Regions from separate parts of the Homo sapiens genome. Here region 2 is linked to region 1. Evidence: fine-mapped expression QTL. Tissue or cell type: whole blood. Region 1 holds a variant in brackets; the other region holds the start of a gene. All regions are shown on one strand. Distances are from middle to middle.

Region 1 (8,183 bases):
ACATGCAATCCTTTCACATCAGAGTCCCTTCAGGATGGCTAAAGTTAGATCTGTGCATCTGCAACACTGCTCATGCTATATCAACTTGAATCCAGCCTCTGCTCCCAGTCTTACCACATGAGTTCTACATAGCTTATATGGGTTAGCTTTCCAGCTGGAGTGGGGAAAAGAGAAGGTCCTTTAATTAGATACACACCCTATGCTTAAACGTGTTCCATCTGAGAAGCCATAAACAAAAAGAAAGTCTATTTTTCTTTATTGCTGATATATTTTGTCATCAATTCTTATTATCCCATTTTGGGTGAATCTAGCTAAGAATGATCAAAGCAATAAAGCTACTTAAGCTTGGAGTGGGGTAGGGGAACTACAAAAAGGAAAAGCCCTGCACCATCATCACACTGGGCTGGGGGAGGTAGTTTATTAAAACCACTGCTTTTTCTTCTTCTTTCTTTCTTTCTTTTTTTTTTTTTTTAAAGAGACAGGATCTTGCTATGTTGCCTAGGCTAGATTCAAACGCCTCGGCTCAAGCAATCCTCCTGCCACAGCCTAAGTAGCTGGGACTTACAGGCACATGCCACTAATTCCAGCTCACAACTTCTTAATTAGGGTTTTATATTTCCTAACTGGAAAGAACCACCTTGTGAGTTTATTAGCAAGAAATTGAAATTAAACTCTTAAATTGGGTAAGTGATGTCTTAAGAATACTAATTGCATAGTGGATGGTATTGAAACACAGAGCACAGACTGCTGAGCAGCTCATCTCACCAAACCTAAGAAGGAAACTGGAACAGAGATTAGAATCATATTCCACATTTAATAGCAGGCCCACTGATTTCCACTTGCCCATGTTAGAACACCTCCTAAGGAGACTGCCTGATTCTGACATGAAAGAAAATAGTAGTTAATTCTTTAAAATCCTTTTTTCATTAAATACAGAAGTTTCTATAAACCCTGATTCCCTCCCTCCACCCCTGCCCTAAAAAAACAGTGTTTCTTACCCAGTGTAATCCCGTTTAGAGTTTTTCCTTCTATAGAGGACAGCCAGAATCATGCTGATGAGCAGAGTGAGACCTAGGACCACAGCAGTAACTATGCCCACCACTACCCAAACTGGAAACACAGGCAAATTCTCTAGAGAGAAAGAACAAAATAGTTTTAAGGTACATTGCTACAGAGAGAAAACATGGAATTTTATTAAATTAACGAGCAAGTATCTTCATTTAGCAGTTACCGTACCCTCTTTTATTATCCAAACTATGAGATCCTACTATCTATCCTATTACTATGTAATTCATGACATGTGAATATTAGATGAGAAAGAATGAACTATGGAACTAAGCATTTCTACACCTACAATCCCTCTCAGTGCTCTAAAGAAAAACCGGAGGTGTGAATTTACCTGGATCTACTCTCCAACAAAACAGACTTTGTCTCAAAAATGAGACACCAGAACCTGCATTTCCTGTTTGTTCTCAAAATCAAAAGGAAGAAATAACTGTGCTGTTGTTGAAAGCTTTCTCCTGGAGAATATAAAACAGTATGAATCTCCTTCTTTCCCACTGCCCATCACATCCAAACATAATGAATTTGGTCTTTCTTCTAATTAACACTGAAAAATTCATACTCCTGAAATTAGACCAATAGGCACCAGACGGTAGGAATAAAAATGGAGAAATCAGCCACTCTGGGTCAGAATGAGCAACAAGTTTCCCAGCTCCAAGTGTGTTTGGTAGAGCCACAGGTTCGTGGCAACAGGGAGCACAACTGTATGGCAAAAATCCTCCCTCCAAACCCACCATGAAATGCAACTCATGTTTTCCAACCAAACATGAGATAAAGGAGACTGCATTATTACTGCCAAAATACTCAAGGAAGTACCTTTTTCTACGACATAGAGCCTAATGTGTCCAGGCTGGACAACGATGTCAGGAGGGTTTTTGACATCACAGATATAGGTGCCATTGTGTATAAACTGCATATTTTCTATGTTGATTGATGCATCTTTCTTGTCAAGGTCTCCAGCCCAGCTGATTCTGTCTTTAAATGGTGGATAATTCCCAAGGTACACTTGCCCTTGGGAGTAGTGGAAAAACTGCAATTAGAAAAAAGGAACACATGAACTATTCTCAAAGGCAGAATTCCTAAACTCTGTAATGTGCATGCTATGAAAGGTTCTTTTAAAGACTTCATACGGAAAGAAATGCAACATCTCTCTCCCTCTCCCTCTCCCCCTCTCTCTCCTCCTTTTTTCGGTCTCCCTCTGTTGCTGAGGCTGGACTGTACTGCCGTGATCTTGGCTCGCTGCAACCTCCCTGCCTCGGGCTCCTGTGATTCTCCTGCCTCGGGCTGCCGACTGCCTGGGATTGCAGGCACGTGCGGCCACGCCTGACTGGTTTTTGTATTTTTGGTGGAGAGGGGTTTTGCCGTGTTGACCGGGCTGGCCTCCAGCTCCTGACCTGGAGTGTTCTGCCTGCCTCAGCCTCCCAAGGTGCTGGGTTTGCAGATGGAGTCTTGCTCACTCAATGCTCAATGCTGCCCAGGCTGGAGTGCAGTGGTGTGATCTCGGCTCGCTGCAACCTCCACCTCCCAGCCACCTGCCTTGGTCTCCCAAAGTACTAAGATTACAGCCTCTGCCCAGCTGCCACCCCATCTAGGAAGTGAGGAGCGTCTCTGCCTGGCCGCCCATCCTCTGGGATGTGAGGAGCCCCTCTGCCCGGCCACCCTGTCTGGGAAGTGAGGAGCGCCTCTGCCCGGCCACCACCCCGTCTGGGAAGTGAGGAGCGCCTCTGCCTGGCCGCTGTGCAATCTTCCAAGTGTGAAGTGACAGCCTTTCTGCACGTGTACCCAACAGCTCCGAAGAGACAGCGACCATTGAGAACGGGCCATGATGACGATGGCGGTTTTGTCAAAAAGAAAAGGGGGAAATGTGGGGAAAAGAAAGAGAGATCAGATTGTTACTGTGTCTGTGTAGAAAGAAGTAGACATAGGAGACTCCATTTTGTTCTGTACTAAGAAAAATTCTTCTGCCTTGGGATGCTGTTAATCTATAAACCTTACCCCCAACCCCATGCTCTCTGAAACATGTGCTGTGTCAACTCAGGGTGAAATGGATTAAGGGCGGTGCAAGATGTGCTTTGTTAAACAGATGCTTGAAGGCAGCATACTCGTTAAGAGTCATCACCACTCCCTAATCTCAAGTACCCAGGGACACAAACACTGCGGAAGGCCGCAGGGACCTCTGCCTAGGAAAACCAGAGACCTTTGTTCACGTGTTGACCTTCTCTCCACTATTATCCTATGACCCTGCCACATCCCCCTCTCCGAGAAACACCCAAGAATGATCAATTAAAAAAAAAAAAAAAAAGAAATGCAACATCATATTACAAATCACAAGTTATGGAATCTAAGCCAGACAGAAGTTTAGAGATCACGGCACTCAACCCTGCCAGGTTTCAATGGAAGAATCAGACTCATATATCACCTCTAATCCTCTCAATATTTCATTGATATAATTATTACCACCCATAATTTTATAAAAGACAAAATGGAGACTTAAGAGAAGCCATTTTCCCAAGGTACCAATGATAGTAAATTGGGGACCCAGAGTAAAATTTAGGCCCATCTGAGTCTTCAAAGCCAATGTTCTTCCAGTAACACCATGATTGAGCCCAGTGATTCCCAAGGCTTCAGAAAGCTTAGTGTTGAGTTAGCTTACCACTAAGATACACAGAAGCACAAAGGAGAAGAATCCTAAATATCTCAGATCAGCTAATCTGAGTTTCGCCCTCTTCCTTCTGGTTTCCTATGGAAAAGTCATGGGTGTGTGAAAGGAACAAAGCCCAGATAACACAAGATACTCTTGCCGGCTTTTGAAAGTTCAGCCTTTAGCCCCTTTCTC[T/C]TTCCACTCCTCAGTCTCTCCTCAGTCCTGCTTTCAGCAAAGGAACTGTCTTCTCAAAGTAAACCTTGTCAAACTCAGCACCTGGAAGCAGGGTTAAGGCCCAGTGGGAGGGGATCTATCCTCACACTTGGCTCTAATCCAAGCAGCTATGCTGGAGGCCTGATGTCTTTGTTCTGGTTAATGGACGGGGTGATGGTGGAGCTGGGGATAGAAACCAGCTCTATTAGCAATTCAAACAGAACATTTTCAGAACCCTTTGAGCACGGTGAAAACCCCAGTGCAGACTCATCCATTCCTATGATTTAATGATCATCTAGATTTTCTTAACTCCCAAACCTCTCTCTCCATCAATAGCGTCCCCTAAGCTCTAGACTCCTTGCCTACTCACTTTACCACCTGGCTGCCCCTCTCCCCCAAGCTTGTCACCCTCTCTTACAAACTTCATCTTCCCCTCTTCATGTATCGTGTCTTCACTGATGGCTACTGTTTCTTTCCAAAACCATAAATCTTGAAGTCATCCTTGATTCTCTTTCTTCCTATCCAGTTAATCCCCCAATATTGTCAATGTCTCATTAGTTTCTCTCAGTTCTCTCTTCTCTCTATTCGGTTCCCACTGACAATATCTGTTTTTATGTTTTCATCATCTTGGACTATGGCCTCTTAACTGGTATGTCTAACTCATCATCTTCCACAATGCCTAAATGATCACTGATAAAGAATAATGGTTATTATTATAACATTTATCAAATATTTACCCTGCATTTCATATGACCTAAATGCTTGTTAAGAACCGTGAAGGGTCTGAGATTTTACCCTACTTACAAGCTAACAAAGTTAGTTGGCCACAGGTTCATAGGTGCTGACAGAAGACACGGACTCCTGTGAAATCTTCACTCCCATGAAGAAGACTCAGAAACAAAGAACCTTATGAGCAGAAAGCATGTGTTTGTTTCTCTTGCCCCGCAAGTCCCATAGCCATGACATGGAGGGGCTCACATGGATGTTGTGCAGGCAGAGGCGTTGCATCACAGCCGAGGAACCCCAAGCTCAGGGAACACTATTCTCTTACAAGGGGCAGAAGACATGTCTGACTTCAGCCCTGAAAGGAGACACTACCTTTACTATACTCAAGAATACACAAATTTGTCCTTTGCTCCAGAGGGTAACATCATCTCTGCCTTCCAAAGCTAGTTACTGTATAAAAAAAGTCCAGAACAAAGGCAGCCAGTGCCTTTGCTAGCAAGGTGTGCAAAAACGTGAAAGACCCATAGAAAACTGTCTCCCAACAACTCTCTAGCCCTCACAACCACCCTGCAAGGTGAGATTCGCCTACCTGATATTTCATAAATAGGGAATGTGAGGCTCAGGAAACCTTGGTGACTTTCCCAAAGTCACAGGTTTTAGAGATGGAATTCAAACTCAGCTCTGATTTCAAAGCTTATGCTATTTCCAATGTTTAAGGCCTCTCAGGTGAGATCATGTCTTATCTGTTCAAAGTTCTTCACTCTCTCTTCTTCACTAGAAAATGAACCATAAACTCTCAGCTTTGCAAATGAATCCTTCCATCACCTGCTCTCTGCCTTCCCTTCCCACAACATCTCCACATATTCCCTGCCTTGCATTTCTGAACCAGCGGGGATGAGCTACATGATGCTGTTTCTCAGCACTGGGTCTGAGACAGCTCCCTCAGTCAGGCTCCCTCATTGAATGGGGGCCATTTGAAGGCAGAGGATAAGATGTATTTATCTCTGTACTCCTTAGCACTTTGGACACAGCAGGAACTACATAGTTTGCTGAATCAAACTGAGGAATAACGTCTTGGTCAAACCAGTGAGAGATGGAAATAAAACAGTGAAAAATTCACAGAAAAGACTAGAATCATTATCAATCAATATTTTTAAAGTACAAGCCATGGTGCTAAAGCTATGAGGTATACTAAAGATGTAAGACAGGCAAGTCCTCTTAAAACACCCATATTCAGGAAGAAGAGGAAAACTGTCATATTAAGGGATCTGTATTATAGGAATGGCCCAGATAAGGGTAGTGAGTTTTAAGGGCTAAAAGGTTAAAAAAAAAAAAAGAGGCATTATGGAGGAGACAGAGGGTAAAAATGGGGTACAGCTTAAATGACAAGTGTTCAGAAGTAGGAAAACAAAGCACAAAGCATTTTTACTAAACTGGAAGTGATGCCATAAGAGAACAGAAGTGAGGCTAAAGTGGTAGGCTGGGCCAAATTGTAATGAGCTTTTAATTCTAGACAAATGTTGTCCACAATGGGAATCTAGGTTCCTGATAACCTGCAGTGGCAAGGTGAAAGAGCTGTTCTAAGACTATGCACCTGCTGGCATATGAGGGTTGGATTGAAAGATGAGAAAAACAGAAGCAGAAGAATAACAAGGGGCTACTGCACAAGACCAGGCACACAGTTAACATTGCTCAATAGACAGCAGAGACACAGGAAGGCTGACAAAAAGCTAGACACCAGAAACAAAGTAGGAAGAACCAGCAAAGGTTCTTATTTCTTGGGGGCAGAAGGGAAGTGGTAAGGGACAGGGAAGGAAAGGACAGAAAACACAAAACAAAACAAAACAAAACAAAACAAAACAAAACAAAATGATTACAAAACTCATCTGCAGATGAACACAATTAACCTAAAAAAAAAAAAAAAAAAAAAAAGCAGAAAAGGGAAACAGAAGGGAGAAAAAATGAGTTCAGTTTCAGACATGTGGATCCCAAGGCCATGGGCCAAAAAAGCCATCCACAGTATGGCTTTTGAATATACTGGGTTTGAATATACTTTTCCTGTAAAACCTATAAAAACAAAAAAGCAACCCACTCATCTTATTAAATGTGTCCCGACATTTTGGAATTAAAGGATCCTATGTCAATAACTGAACATGCTGGGATTAACTGCAATCAGACTCGTGTGTAAGTATAAATTGATTAGCTAAAAATATTAATCAGAATTACAGCATGTTCTTAATATTAAGTTTTGAGTTATGTAAACCTTCATGGACCTACACGACAAGACTGTTTCCAGCATAAATGGAACCGCTCTTTAAAAGAAAGTTATTACCTCTGGGTGGCTCTCACACCCACTCTTGCAGAAGACTTCAGTGGGAAATCTTTAAATGTTTAAATAGTTCTTTGGACTCTCTTGAGTAAACTTATGTGTTTAATCTTGCCTCTATGGGAACATTAGTGTATGTTCTATGCTGATGCCATATTTACGTGAAGCAGAGAATGCCTCTTTATGTCTTTCCATGGTATCTGTATGGATTCCTGTGCTCACCCTTATGGCTACTGTAAGGGAAGGCCTCTCTTATAAAGACCTCTAGACTATGCATTCTCCATAGGGGAGATTCTCCCCCAAGGGAGCAAACACTGGCTCTTGGGTGGGAAGCTTTGAGAAAATCTTTCTCTTTTATATGTAAAACAGTTGCAGAGGATATCTACAATATTAAAATTTCATGGAAGGGGGCAGAGATTAAGAAAAATGTGAAAAGGCTCCTTTTAAAAATAAATTTTAAAAAATACTGAGAAGCACTGCCTTAGGTAATCCCTAAAACCTATGAGGCCGTAAATATTATTAGCAGATTTTTCTACCTGAGAGAGAAATAATACATAAGGGAAATCATACCGTATTGAAGTTTAAACAATTCTAACCTGTGTGGTATGGCCACAGGTGAATAACTCTTGAGTCAGTGTCTCCCATCCTCCCCACCCTGTCTTCCTCATAGAGCTGTGAAGATTAAATGGCATAGGCATATGATGGGCCCAACATCTAGGTGGTGATCAACAATGTAACTCACCATTCAGAAGAAGAATTGGGCATTCTTAAAGATAGATGACAGACTGTCCTTGCTAAACACTGACAACCTGAAACATGCAACAGTACTAAAATATGTGCCAATATATGAAGGGCATTCCACATGCTGGGAGAGCAACAGTAACAACAAATGGTGTATTTTAGTAACTCAAGAGCTAGACACTCTCCTGAGCACTTATCTTGAATAATCTTACTTTATCCTCCTAACACCCTTGTGTGGGAGGTTTTATCGTCTCCATTTTACAGACCAGAACCAAGATAGTCAGTTCATGTTTAATAACCAGCACTCCACTAGTTACTAAATAACCTTTTTTCAATGCTCTGGTGCTGTATTTCTGTTACATCCTTTATCTTACTCCAAAGTCATCTATATATCAGCCTTCCTCCTAATCATCTCTAGGTGAGAGCAAGGATTCTGTTTTAGACATTTTTGAAGGCCCTACATAACCCACTACA
Region 2 (8,183 bases), 49 kb after region 1:
AGTAAGCCGAGATTGTGCCACTGCATTCCAGCCTGGGCGAGACAGAGCAAGACTCCAGAGGGGGAAAAAGAGGAAGAGCAGCTGGGAGGCTATCACAGTAATATAGGCAAGAAATGGTGGTGACTTTGACTAAAAGGCTAGGAGTGGAGGTAGAAAAAACATCAATTCCAGATGCATTTTAAAGATGGGAGAACTGATTGGATGTGAAGGACAGGGAAGAATCAGGGATGGACCCTAGGTTTCTGGCCTGCACAATTAGATGTATGGAGGTTCCATTTACTGACATGGATGGTACAAATTACTGAGATTTAGTCCTCATATACTATGTGCTCATTTCAATTACCAAATTCAGTGAATTCTTATCACATTTTATCTCTCTTCATCTGACAATGCTGAAATACCAAACTCACCTGGTTTTTCTCTTACTCACAGAGACTCTTTGTCAGGTTTCATATACCCCAAAACTCCGTCTTTGGCTCTCTGCTATGTTCTTCAGTGCATTTTCCCTGGATGCCCTCATCCAAACAATCCAAGCTTTAACTATTAGCCACATAACTCTCTAAATCTCCATTTCCAACCAGAACTTTCTCCTCACCTCCAGAACTGTCTATCCAATTGTTTTCTGCCCATCTCCATTTGGATGTCTTACCCGCATCTCAAACTCAACATATTCAAAAGTATCTCCATCATCTTCTTCCCCCAAGACTCCTATTTCCCCATCTGTGAAAAGGCCAAAAATATGCCCAGCTTCCCAAGCCCAAAACCTATGATCATTTTATCCACCTCCTCTTTCAAGCCTGCATCAATGTTTCCAAGCTCTATCAAACGTACTTTCTAAGTGGCGCATCAACATGTGTCCTCTCTTCATAGCCCAATGCTTGAATTCAGATCTTCATCATCCTCCCCGGGATTATTACAATAGTCCTCTGCCTTCTCTGGCTTCAGCCTCACCCCACTCTAACCCATCCTTCACATCTCAATAGACAGAGAAATCCTCATTGGATTAAGTGTGGCAGACAAGGCCCTTTGTAAGCTGGTGCCCTTGGCAGGCTCTCCTGCCTCAACTCCCACCATTCCCCTTATATACACTCCAACCTCCCACTATACTGAACTACCAACAGGTTCATTCATAACTCTGTATGTACTTCTGCCCCTCCCCCATGCCTACCCAGTTTAAACTCCCTTCCTCCAGTAGCCTGAACTACAGTCTGAGATAATGACCCTCCTTCAAGCTCCCACAGTACATCTTTACCAATGTGCTTCTGACCCTACACAGTGGCACACACCTGTAGCCCCAGCTGCTTGCGAGGAAAAGGCAGAGGAATCACTGGAGCCCAGGAGTTTCAGTTCCAGAGCAGCCTGGGCAACACAGTGAGACCTAACCTCCCACCTTTTAAGTGTTAAGCACTTAAAAGGTGCTCAGTGAATGTTTGCTGAGTAACTGTCTTGATAAAACTTTAGAAGCTATCCTGTAAAAGATAAACTCTTATGTGCAGTATCCATGACCAGAAAAGAGGTGATTTGGCAAGAATTTTAGATTCAATAATTTTCTAAGTTGAACCAATAACATCAGCTGCTGATTTTTACATATCAACATTCATCTTCATTACTGAAGAGTTACGTCCAAGTTGTATGGGGCTATTACTCTAGTGATCTTTTCACTACTATGTAGTTTTGCACTCCTTCTACGTTTAATACCCTGATTTTAATTAAGATCACCCTAACTGCTTTGTCCTCCATAGCAATGTCTGACCTCTCATGCATAACAATTCTGTCTGAAGCATATTTCTGATAAACCTTAATTTTAGGCTATTTTCTACTTGTTTGATTAAACACAAATACCACCACCAACAAACACACTTTTAACCTTTTTTTCTAAGACAAAATACAGAATGGATTGTGTCTTACACAAAGTGTGTCATCATCTGTCAACCCCTGGAGGGTAGGGAGACTTTTACATTTATGCTTTACAGCCCCTGGAATCACTGTTTAAGTGGAACAGTTGGTGATCCAACAGAACTTCACCTAGTTTCCCTGATCCAAGGATTATATTAAGAACTTTTCCATGAAGAAAGAAATTACTGAGTAAACTCTGGTATTCAGATACTGTGATGCTAAATCATAACTGACATTTTGAAAACAAAGGGAATGAAAAAAATCTACGTGGTTTCTTAGCAGCTGGCCCTCTTTATAACTATTATTTAACTAAATTCGGAGACAGCAACAAGTACTTTGCTTTGAACAACAACACAGAAAAGTCCTGTGGCAGATACCACTTCAGATGTCCATAAAACAAGTCATCCAATTCCCATAAATTGAGCCCGAGGTTTACCTTAAGCTTGAGTCACAATATTTGGTAAGAAAAAGGAGCTTTTTTTTTCCTTTAGGAAAATTATGCTTTTTAATGCTCTATGTCTTGTCAAATTATGGTGGCTACGTCTGGAATTATGATGGATTTGACCAAATTCTTTTAAGCCAGGCCATCTCACTGGTATTCCAAGCTCTTTGCATTCTAACCTAGAAGTAACAATATTTTTTTATTGGCGTTTTGCAGACCACGGAAATGAGACTCTTTTATTACGGAGACTTAAAACTGAATGAGAGCATGGGAAAGGGAACTTACAACAAAACCCTGGCTTAACAGGAAACAAATCAACAAAGGCCCTACAAATGAAAAACCTGCAACTTTCCGCCACCTCCCAAAGGTGAAGAACGCCAGAACCCTAGTTCCTGAGTCAGAATCCGGGAGGGCCTAGACGATCCAGAGTCACCACGAGGAGAGGGCAGGGTGCGCCGCGAGGGCTCACCGCAGCCGCCCGCCGGGTCCGCTCCCCTGGACCGCCCCCCGGGAAGGAGCAAGGTAAAGCACTCTCCCCTCCTCCTCCGCACTCCAGGATCCAGGAAAGAGAAGAAAGAGGCTCTGCGCCTTCCCGGCCAGTCGCGGAGGCCCGCGTTCCCCATGGGCTGGGTCCCCTCGGCCCCAGAGAGCGCAGGCCGCGCCCCCTCCCCACCTCGGCTCTCAGTGCGCGCGCCTGGCCTGCGACCGCCGCGATGGGCGTGTGTCGGGCCCGGGGGCCCCACTCCCCGGCCCCAGCCCTGGTCCTGGCATCACTTACAGAGCCCAAGCGCCGCCGCCAGCACCGACCACAGCCAGCGCCGGCTGTCTGGGGCTGCAATCACCGCCCCGGCTCCGGCGGACGCTGCCATCGTCCAGCCACTGCAGTCGCCGCCGCCGCCGCCGCGTCCCTGAGCCCGGGTCCCCGCTGAGGTTGGCTCGGCTTGGGGAAGAGGCTTCTGATCTCTCCGCCACCCGCGCCGGGTGGCACCTCCACGCCGCGCTCCCCACTCCGGTCCCAGCCGCGGCTCTCCAGCTCTGCACCGAAGCCTCAGCCCCACTCCGGCCCTCGCTGTCCGCTCATTGGCCTGCCCGCACCCTTTTAAGGACGCGATTGGAGAGTCAGGCTGTCCATCATCCGTCCGCCGGGAAGGCCCCGCCTCCTCGGTCCCACCCAGGCGCCTCGGCCCCGCGCGGAGGCCGGGTCTGCAGCGGTCCCAGGCCGAGCCGAGCCTTCCGCCTGCCTGCGTGGCTGTCCGCCTGCGGGCCCCACCAGCCAGCGTCTCCTCTGCCTTTCTCAGGGTCCAGTCCCGTGGTCCTCTTCATTGTCTCTCCTCGCCACAGGTCTTTGCTGGGTACTAACCTCGCCTCCGTTTCAGCTCTTCTTGTTCTCTGCCGGCCTCACCTAACGAAAAAGAAGCAATTCATTTACCTTAAAAAGAAAGAAAAGACAGAAAGAAAAATAATGAGGCGTTCAATTGATGGGGGAGAGACTTCTGATTCAGTCGTCCAGGTGGAACACGTTCCCCGTGCCGTGTCCCCAAGGCCTGTCCTTTGCGTGGACTAGATAATGTATGTGTTGCAATTTGCGAAATCTACTAGTTTAAAAAGAAGTCTCCATCTTGCCCTAACCTCCTCTTAGGAACCTCCCTCCTGGCTTCAGAAGGATGGGAATCTGGAACTCTTTCCTACTACCTGAAAAACAAATGAAAATGCTTTTTGATTGTTTTGCTTTCGCATATCTGTGTTCCTGTCTGTGTCCGTGAAAAATAGAAAGCAGAAGTTCCCAACACTGATTCTGAAGTGCCCTGCAGAAGTTCCCGACACTGATTGCTGGCCCTGCTCAACTTGGTTGCCTTGGCCCAGAACAGTCTGCCACCTACGGGTTGTCCAATCAATAGGGGAAATATTTGGAAGGATCCTTATGAAAATGGCTTACAAAAGGGAAAAATGGGGGACAGGGGCACAAGAAAGATGAGTGTGAAGGAGGAAAAGGGAAGATTCAGGTGGGAGGCTGATACGATGAGGAAGGGAAGCAAGCTTTAGACAATTAGGACAAGAGCGGGGGAAGAGTATGGTGAGAACCCAAAATGTAACCTCTCACTTCAGGGTTTTTGTCTAAGGTCAGTCTTAACAATGCCATTCCTGATATCTGTGCTGTTTCAGCTAACATTGCAGTACAGCGAAATCATAAGAACATTAGTGAGAAAAAAACTTAAAAAAAAAAAATACCAGAACCACTTTGCCCTATTTCTGTCAGCAGATCCTTTTGAAGTTGTATCTCAAATGCCATAGGTTGGAAAAGATACCAATGCATTAATTGAACCATGGATGTAGAACACCTGGGCTTTACTCTCAAGAAGCACATCGTCTACTAGTGTACACAAACAAGTACTCAATTACATTTGTAAAAATGAGGGCCGGGTGCGGTGGCTCACACTTGTAATCCCAGCACTTCGGGAGGCCGAGGCGGGCAGATCACGAGGTCAGGAGTTTGAGACCAGCCTGGCCAGCGTAGTGAAACCCCATCTCTACTAAAAGATACAAAAAAATTAGCCGGGCATGGGTGGCGCGTGACTGTACCCAGCTACTCGGGTGGCTGAGGCAGGAGAATCGCTTGAACTGAGAGAAGAGAGACAGAACCTCTCATATAGTTTTATACTCAGAAAAGGAAAGAGAAGCGAAATTAAAGGCAGGTAACCCGGCGCCTAAGAACCAGACCCGAAACCAGGCCTGGGCCTGCCTGACCTAAGCCCGGTAGTTAAAGATCGACCCCTGACCTAACCGGTTATGTTATCTATGGATTCCAGACATTATATGGAAAGGCATTGTAAAAATCCCTGTCCTGTTCTGTTTCGTTCTGATTACCGGTGCATGCAGCCCCCATTCACAGTACCCTCTGCTTGCTCAATTGATCATGACCCTCTCACGCGGACCCCCTTAGAGTTGTGAGCCCTTAAAAGGGACAGGAATTGCTCACTCGGGGAGCTAGGCTCTTGAGACAGGAGGCTTGCCGATACTTCCGGCCGAATAAACCCCTTCCTTCTTTAACTCCGTGTCTGAGGAGTTTTGTCTGCGGCTCATCCTGCTACAGAACCTGGGAGGCAGAGGTTGCAGTGAGACGAGATCACGCGCCATTGCACTCCAGCCTGGGCGACAGGGCGAGACTCCGTCTCAAAAAAAGGAAGAGTGAATAAAGAAGAAACCCAAGGCCAGCAGGGACAGTGACTCTCAGCAGTGTTTAAAGCTTCTCTGCTGATTGTGATGTACCTCAGCCACATATACCTCGCTCTCCTAAAATCCACTGGCCCAAGAAGCATCTAGAAAGATTCACCAAGGATAAAACATTTAAGGTGAACTTTAAAAGATGAATAATTCACCAGAGAGAAAACAGGAAAAGCAAACTCAGAGAACGGAGAAAACAGGAAAAGCACATTCAGAGAAAAGAAATCACCTACCAAGTGTGAGAAACATTAGGTGAATCCTTTGTGGTTTGCAACTTGAGGGGAGTGAGGGAAAGAGGGGAAGAGAGAATGCCAGGAAAGGAGGCTGCGGTCATATTTTGAAGAGCCTTGAGTTGTGTTTTTTCTGGAGGCAGTGGAGAGTGGTGAAAGGGGTGTAAGAAGTTCGGATCTGTGTTTTAAAAAGGTAACCACTGCAGCAGGGCAAGAATGAAGAGAGCAGGAAATAAGGTATTGATAGTGGGGATGAGAAGACAGGATTTGAGAGACATTTCACGAAAAGAATTACAGGACTGGGTATAAATTGGATGAGAAGTATAATCAAGAGAAAAAGAGTCCCAATTTCTAGCCTGTCTGTCTTTGTCTTCAAGATCTGTTGCCAGAGGAAAATTGGAATGTGGGTGGTGTCCCAGGAACCCTGAGAATTTGACTCCTCGCAGATAACAAATCAGATAGATTCAAAGAGGAATCCCAGGCCACCTTGAGAAAGATTCGCCTGAAGCCAAATCAGTTTCACAAAGAATGTCTTAATCCAGAAGCATTGCTGCTAGAAATTTTTGAAAATTGGAAAATTAGAGTTCTAGTGTCTCCTTCCCCTTGGCACAGAGACACCAAATTGGGGGAACGAGGGTAAAAGGGTCCTTAGGGAGGTGTTAATTCTTACAGGAGAAGGCTGTGCTGTCAGACTTCTAAATTCACTGTAGCTGGGATAAAATTTTCCTCAAGATACACTGTTTTCCTGGGCCCTGCAACCATCTGTGTACTACATCTGCTTCCCAAGGACCTAATTCTAGGGAAGCATGTGCCTGGACAGATAGCGCAGGCATTCCTCCTACCAAATAGGGATATTTCCCACTGTCAATGAAGCAATCAATATTCTGAGTTTTGTTATTGTCAGTCTTTCTGCATCATTGTTATGACAGTCAAATGAGATACTCAAGTATTTGGCCTGCCGAGTAAAAGACAAGTTCCTTTTTAATGATTAGATAGAAGAAGTTGGGGGGAAAAATCTAAAATGATAATAGCTATAGTAAATTCAAAAGGGAAAAGAGAGAGAGCAGGGAGACTTCTTGAGACTGAGGCTTTCAGATATCTGAAGTGGTTATATTATTTTCTCTAACCAGTTATATTCTACAGCTTCCTCATTTTAAGGAGAAAAGCAGTATAAACTTCTTAGGTGTCCAGGGCATATTTTTTTCCAGTTAGATTTTGATGAATACACTATCTGGCAATCTAGAACTTATTAACATTGTACAAGGTATTCTTATCCTCCCTCCTTTCCTGGAGCCCTAAGAAGAACTGAAGACTCAAGTTAGGGCAGTTTTAAATAAAACAAGGGTAAAGACAGCGCTAGATTTTCTATAATTTTCTGTTGTCAAACCATAGGAAGAAAGTGGACAGTTCGGAGTCGGTCACATAGTACTTGTTGTTAAATGTTTGTTGAAGAATGAGTAGGCTGGGCGCCGTGGCTCACGCCTGTAATCCCAGCACTTTGGGAGGCCAAGGCCGGCGGATCACAAGGTCGGGAGTTCGAGAACAGCCTGGCTAACATGGCGAAACCCCCATCTCTACTAAAAATACATTTGGTGCCCACCGTTTGTAATCCAGCTACTTGGGAGGCTGAGGCGGGAAAATTGCTTGAACCCGGGAGGCGGAGGTTGCAGTGAGCTGAGATTGCGCCACTGCACTCCAGCCTGGGTGACAGAGCAAGACTTCCGTCTCGGAAAAAAATAAAAAAGAATGAGCAATGAATGAATGAATGAATAAACCGATGAATGTATGACATATGAAATAAAATTAATGAATAGGTCTATTTAAGATAGTCACTCTGTCTACTTGTTTCCTATCTGGTTGGTTATTTGCTAGAATGACAATTCACAATTACTGTTTGTCAATGTGTTTGTCAACGTGTTAGGGAAGCAGCAGCCTAGGAAAGCTAGAATAATGCCATTTTAAGTTCAGCTCCATTTTAGGACTAACAAGGCACATTCCTTGCCTGCCACGACCCATAGTCATGGGATGTTTATAATTAAGGAAACAGCCTGAAGATAACTAGGACTGACTCCTACAACAGCAAGAAGTCCAAATGTCCTAATATCTACAACAATATATGCCTTTAAGATAATCACAGTTATGCTTTTACGTATTCACACACTAAAATGTCAATAATTGTCTTCTTTAAATCAACAGAGTAACAAAATTTGTCATGTTGTCTGCTCACCCGTATGTAGGCACAGCTTAGCCTAGCTTTTACATAGGTAAGATCACTATATAAGAAAAACTTAAGAACGGGGTGTTTCTCCTCCTACTTTCTGAGAACATCCTGCTCTGTAACAGAGTAGTTTCCAATAAACTTGCTTCTTTCACCCTGAATTCTTTCCTGCACG

What was found. PIP is the estimated chance that this variant, and not a neighbour inherited with it, causes the effect.
Region 2: MPZL1 starts here. The variant in region 1 is fine-mapped to the expression of MPZL1 in whole blood (TOPMed, PIP above 0.99). The same link has a PIP of 0.9 or more in blood mononuclear cells.

What each region holds. Positions count from the first base shown.
Region 1 is chr1:167,766,184-167,774,366 of GRCh38, reverse strand. MPZL1 (myelin protein zero like 1) reads right to left here. Exons shown (of 6, transcript NM_003953.6): 3 at 1,879-2,092; 4 at 999-1,131. Among named protein-coding and RNA genes, the nearest start is that of MPZL1, 48 kb to the right of the region's middle. RefSeq lists enhancers at 2,360-2,861, 3,796-4,367. The variant T/C (reference allele first, on the strand shown) is at 3,899.
Region 2 is chr1:167,717,176-167,725,358 of GRCh38, reverse strand. MPZL1 (myelin protein zero like 1) reads right to left here and starts at 3,377. Exons shown (of 6, transcript NM_003953.6): 1 at 3,117-3,377. The coding sequence starts at 3,207. RefSeq lists silencers at 2,738-2,877, 2,908-2,977, 3,368-3,737 and enhancers at 2,549-3,049, 5,276-5,775.